2 separate regions of the Homo sapiens genome follow, and region 2 is linked to region 1. The links come from fine-mapping of genetic effects on gene expression. Tissue or cell type: cerebellar hemisphere. Region 1 holds a variant in brackets; the other region holds the start of a gene. All regions are shown on one strand. Distances are between the middles of the regions.

The links. PIP is the estimated chance that this variant, and not a neighbour inherited with it, causes the effect.
Region 2: PNMA3 starts here. The variant in region 1 is fine-mapped to the expression of PNMA3 in cerebellar hemisphere (GTEx, PIP 0.98).

The regions. Positions count from the first base shown.
Region 1 is chrX:153,030,629-153,033,468 of GRCh38, reverse strand. No RefSeq gene overlaps it. Among named protein-coding and RNA genes, the nearest start is that of PNMA3, 24 kb to the left of the region's middle. The variant C/T (reference allele first, on the strand shown) is at 1,709.
Region 2 is chrX:153,054,911-153,057,616 of GRCh38, reverse strand. It overlaps PNMA3 (PNMA family member 3), which reads right to left and starts at 1,147. Exons shown (of 2, transcript NM_013364.6): 1 at 979-1,147; 2 at 1-667. The coding sequence starts at 561.

The DNA of each region.
Region 1 (2,840 bases):
TTGGACTCATGCCAGAGCAACAGAGCCAGCAGGCTTGCTAACTGTTGACAGAAGGAGCACATCACAAACTGGAAGCGGTAGAGTGTAATGAAAGCAGCACGGGTCCCAGAATTAAGAAGTCTGGTTCTGCAATTTTGTAACCAGAGCAGTTCCCACCAATCTCTTGTCCTTGGTTTCTACCTTTAAACAAAGAGAGACTTCATGATCTCTGGGGCTAGGGAAAGTAAGGCTCCACTGCCCTGCAGGATGTCAGGATGACGCCACCCCCATGGCGCTCCCTCATCAAACTCCTAGGGAACAAAGTCCCTCCTCACTGAGCCCCACAGACGAGCCCCGGTCAGCCCAAGGGCCCAGCATGGTTGGAGGGTCCAGCTGCCCTCCCTGTCTGCACGTCCACACCCCCTTACCCTGGACAGCCCTGACGACCGTTGTCTGGTGTCCCAGAGCCATGGCCGCCAGGGCTCCCTGCGAAACAAGCTCAGGCCACAGGAGCCCCGTTCGGCCCCCGCGGGACCGCGCTCCCTCCCGCCGGCGACGGTCCACGCGCGGTCACCCCAAGGCCACTCTGGCCACGGCTGCAGACCTTGAGCGTGGGAAGGGGCAGCCAGCTCCTCGGGCCCATTCGTGATCCTCGGGCGTCCTCTGGCGGCCAGAGCGGGCGTGACCTCAGGAGAATCCCCGCCGAGGCCGAACTCGCCCCGATGGCCGTTTCGCTTTGTGGACGGTCGCATTTTCCCAGCGGGCACTGCGACCGACTGTGACTGTGGTTCCGGGTATGGTGGTTGCACGCCTGTGGTCCCAGCTAGTCGGGAGGCTGAGGCGGGAGAATCGCTTGAGCCCAGGAGGTCGGGGTTGCAGTGAGCTATGACAGCGCCACTACACTCCACCCTGGGCAACAGAGCGAGACCATTTCTCAAAAAGAATAAAATGACAACCGGAAATATACGACCGTGCTGTCGCGGCTGCAGGAAATGGCGGCGTGCCCAGGCGCACTCATGACGGCTGCGTGCTCGTCAAGGTGCACAGGCGCGCACGCGTAGCGTACACTGGTGAAAGTTGCGCATTTGGACAGGCGACACGTCCTGCGCCCGCTACCCAGACTCTGGGGAAGGCAAGGGGTGCCGCTCTGTTCTACTCCTTTTCCTTATCCATCTCTTCTGTCTTTCCAAAGAGATGGTGAAAGCTCCACACACAGGATAAACATGAGGAACTGAGGAACAGTTAAAAAGATGTCTATGCTAGAGCTTCAACCCAGGCCTCCGCCCCAGCCTGCTGTCCCCTGCCTGCCCTTCCACGTCTTATGCACTTCGTTCTGGGAGCCTCCATGCATGCCCTGGGGAGCAAGCCACACATTGCCCTCGCACGGCAGTGTTCCGTCAACTGGCACCATCCAGCATGTTCAGCTTGGTTTCTTTCCTCATCCTCATAAGCCACTGACTCTGGGTTGGAACCACCATCGCAGTTAGGTCATTCTCTACAATCGCTGGCCTACTATGCCCTGACCGTATCCCAGTGAGCACAATAGGGTCAGAATTCCAGGCCACTGTTGTCCCCCAACTTCCATTTTATCCCAAAGAGACCTTTCCCACTAGTTTCCCACAGCAGAGGCGAGACCGGCTGGAAAATGGAATGAAATTTATTGAAGAGAAACGTGTACCGAAATCACTGAAAAGAAGGGAACCACAACACAGAGAGAAACTGCAAACAG[C/T]CACTACAGGACACAGGTCCTAGGATCCCTCCTCCTGGGGTTCCTGGCAAGGCGCCTCGTCTACCCCCGTCCTGCTGCCGACCCCACTGCTACCTCCCTCCTTCCCGAGGGCCCCAGGGCCCGCCTCTTGCCAGGACGTGGACTCTGGCAGTGTCCACCGGCTTCAGGGAGCCCCCTCCCAAGCCCATCTGCTGGGGCAGGGCCCTGCCCTATAGTCATCACAGACAGTCACAGGACACCAGTAAACACAGCAGGGAACAGCCCACCAGGTCGAGGAAACAGTCACAAGTAACAACAGGGGTGGAATGCCAAAGCATAAAGCTCTCCTGGGAGCCTCAGGCAGGGCAGCCCCACTCCGTCCCGGGTCCGGCTCTTCCTCCCACAGTCATGGTTACCATCGTGGTCACAGGGTGAGCATTGGCCGCGCCCTGGTTCCTCCTTCCCGCCATCTCCTGGGTCTGTGCTGGGGGCCTCCGGGGAGGAGCAGCTCAGAGAAGAACACACACAGCTCCACGAGAACAAGCAGCCACTGGCCTAGATCTACACCAGGAAAGCAGAGGTGGTGTTTAAGATGCAGGACAGACAGCAGTGAGCAGAACCTGGGCTCACAGGAAGCTCACAGCACATGCCCCGGGCCTAGTGGCGGCCGCCCGGGTGGGTGCACAACACACAACTTTGCACAGGAACGACAGCTAGCAGTGGGTGGGCGTCTGCTGGGCGCGTGGGTCACTACGGGGCCTAAACAGGTGAGGGTGGGCTTCCCAGAACAGGGGGCAGCCTGCCCCGGGGACGGCAAATGGGGCAACCCTCTTGGGAGACCCAGGCAGCTGGCACCCTTGAGAGGACCTCTTTCCCCTGTCTCTCCCAACCCAGGACAAGGGGTGGGGGACAGACATCTTCAGGTGCCCCCACCCAGGTCGCAGCTGGCCACTCAGGGCTCCCTCCTGGCCAGCCCCCCAGAGACGGCAGGGTTTGGGGCTGGGGCTGGGTGCAGCACTGGGTGCAAAGCAGGGGTGCCTCCCCCAACCCCATTTGGTATCAACGTGGTCATCTGGGTCACCGGGAAGGGCTGATGGTGGTGGCCAGGGCCCTTTGGAGGGAGGTGGGGGGCCCCGATCCTGATGTGGGATGA
Region 2 (2,706 bases), 24 kb before region 1:
GGTGTGCTCAAGCCAGGCATCAAAGGCCAGTGCACCTGGGATGGATATGGTGTTCCCAGAAAACACTCTTAGTTCTCGGTACAACATTTGTTCTAGCAGAGGCTGCACTGCTGCCCCCAGAGTCTGGGCCCAGGTCCAGAACTCTGGTGATATAGTCACTCTTGGAGCCGAACAATTGGTGTCCGACCCGAGGACTCGGTTCATATCTGACACGGTCCGCCTCTCCTCCTCTAAGAAGCGGTTCAGTCTGTTGAGAAATTCCCCATCTGAGTTACGGGGTTTTACAATCACTTCCCAGGGCCCCCCCTTTCCTGGTATTTCCCTTGGGAGCAAAGCATAGTCGATATCTTGTGCCAGCTCCAGTAGAATCGCCTGGGCGTTCTCCTCCCTCCTAAACATCCTGCCAATCACCCTGTATCTGCCCAGGTGCCTGCAAGCCTCCTGGAGTGTCTCCTCAAACTCATCCTCGCCACAGTCCTCGGGGATCCCCAGGATGAGCATGCACCTCCGGGTGTTCAGGTGTTCCCCCCGACACCAGTCCTGTAACAAGGTCAACGGCATGTCCTCGAATCTCTGCGGATACTAATTTGGGGGGAGTGATCAGGGCGTGAGGCACATATCTGGATCAACTCCTAGGGTGATCGCAGAAGGCCCAGGTCTCCACAGCCTGTGAATGCGAGCAGGGCGAGAGCGAGGTTAATGCCCACCTCTCCGCACGCCCACATCCACGCCCACCCCCACCCCCACCCCCAGCCGCCCTCCTCCCCGGGCGGCGCCTCTGCAGCCAGGCCCCGCCCCTGCCCAGCCCCCCACCCCCACCCCCCGTGGGGTCTCTGCGGGCCTCAGCCCCCTCCCCGCGCTGCCCCAGGACCCTGGACCCCTGCCCTGCAGGCTGCTTCAGTTCTGATAGGGCGGACAGGCGAGGGGCGGCGGAGTCTCCCGGGGCCCAGCGTCTCCCTCCCCAGGTGGGTCTGTTACCTTCTCCCAGGGCAAGGTCCCTTCTGGTCGGGGTCCCCAGAGGGCTCTCCGGGGGCTATGCGCGGCGGCGGCGGCGGCGGCGGACGGGGGTCGGGCACCCCTGGCTCCCAGCGCGGACGTTCGCTCAGACTGTGGCTCTCCCTCGCTCGCGCAGCACGTGGGCCAGTGCGCCGGCGCCTGCTCGCCGCGGCTCTCTGCAGTGCGGACACGGGGCGGGGGCGCGGCGGCGGTGCAGCGCGGACCCCTCCGCGTCGTCCGGGAGACCGCAGGGCCATTGGCGCGGACGGGTCACGAGGTCGGGCTCTCGCCGCCGCCCCTGGGGGCCCCAGGTCCCCGGGTGACGTCACCTGCTCCTCTCCCCTAGCCCCCCCGCCACGGGGGCCCCCGGGCCCCCGGGCACACAAGCGCCCGCCCACCCCCATCCCCACTGCGGTGGCCAAAGGTCTGTGGCGGCCAGTCCCCGTGCCTTTGGCTCTCACCACAGCGGTTCCTGGTCCCGGCTCCTGCCCCTCCCGCACGTGCCACGGAGGTGCCAGCGGGGCGAGGGGTCTGCACCCCGGCGTGCCCACCAGAGGGCCAGGGAGTGGTCTGAGGTGCGCCAGGCAGCTCTGCATTATGGCCAGGGTCAGGGAGCCGGGTTCTGGGGCCTGTTCACCTGCTCTTGTCCTCCCCCTCCCCGTCCAGGACTGGTCCTCTGGCTGGCGAGGCCAGGGGCACCTGGTGCGGGTGCCATTCCGTGCAGGAGATGCCCCAGGCACTCATGCAGGTCACGCACACCACCCCAAGGAGGGTCAGCCATCTCCCCGCTGTCCATCCCGCTGCTGGGACCTGAGGCCCTCCGGCCAAAGCGCTTCGCTGCCCAGGTGCCAGTGGACAGGTTTACCGGGACCTTTCCGGTTTTGTGCGCTGCAAATCTAGTGACTTGGGAAACCACTTCCAGGACTTGGAGCCCAATCCCTTGGGCCTGCCCTTCCTTGGCAGCCGTGCGCCGTGGGTTCTATTGTATCCGTTTGATCCCAGGGCAGCAGCCAAATGAAGAAGGGAGTGACTGTCCCTCAGGCAGTGGGCCCAGGTGTTCTGTGGGTCCTGCCTGCTCTGCCAGCCGCATGCTCAACTCCTATTCACACAGCTTCAGCTCCTCTCCAAACACAACGAAAAGGGGCTTGTGGTTGATTTTCAGGCCAGGTTCACCCATCCAGCCAAGTCTGGGAGGCCACCTTGCAGTGAGTGGGGCACAAAACTGTCCACTGACTTCCTGCCCCACCCTGAGTTCTGCTCGTCAGCCTGGCACTTGTCAGGGACCAAGAAGAAATGGCCCCAAGGGCTTTTTCCTGGTCAGACAGAATTCCTGAAACATCTTTACAGGAGTTATTTCATTTGCTCCTCACCAGAACTCTGAAGCAGGTATTAACATTATCCTGATTTGACTCATGAGGCTCAGAGAGATTAAGAGACATTTTCAAGGTCACACACCGTATTGAAGGTAGAATTGAGACTGGATTCTAAATTAGTGCCCATCAGTCTTTGGGTAGAATTGGGACTATTTCTCCCCTGGTTGCTTCATGCCTATTAGAATTTATTTCTCTCATTTTTGTCCATTCACAGTCCCTTGCTTTGTCACTCCAAGGGCTCAACCAGCTTCAAACTGAACCTTCATCTGCCCAACTTGCAGGGGTGGAAACAGAGGTTCAGAGAAGGGACACTACTGGCCCAAGGTCACACAGTGAG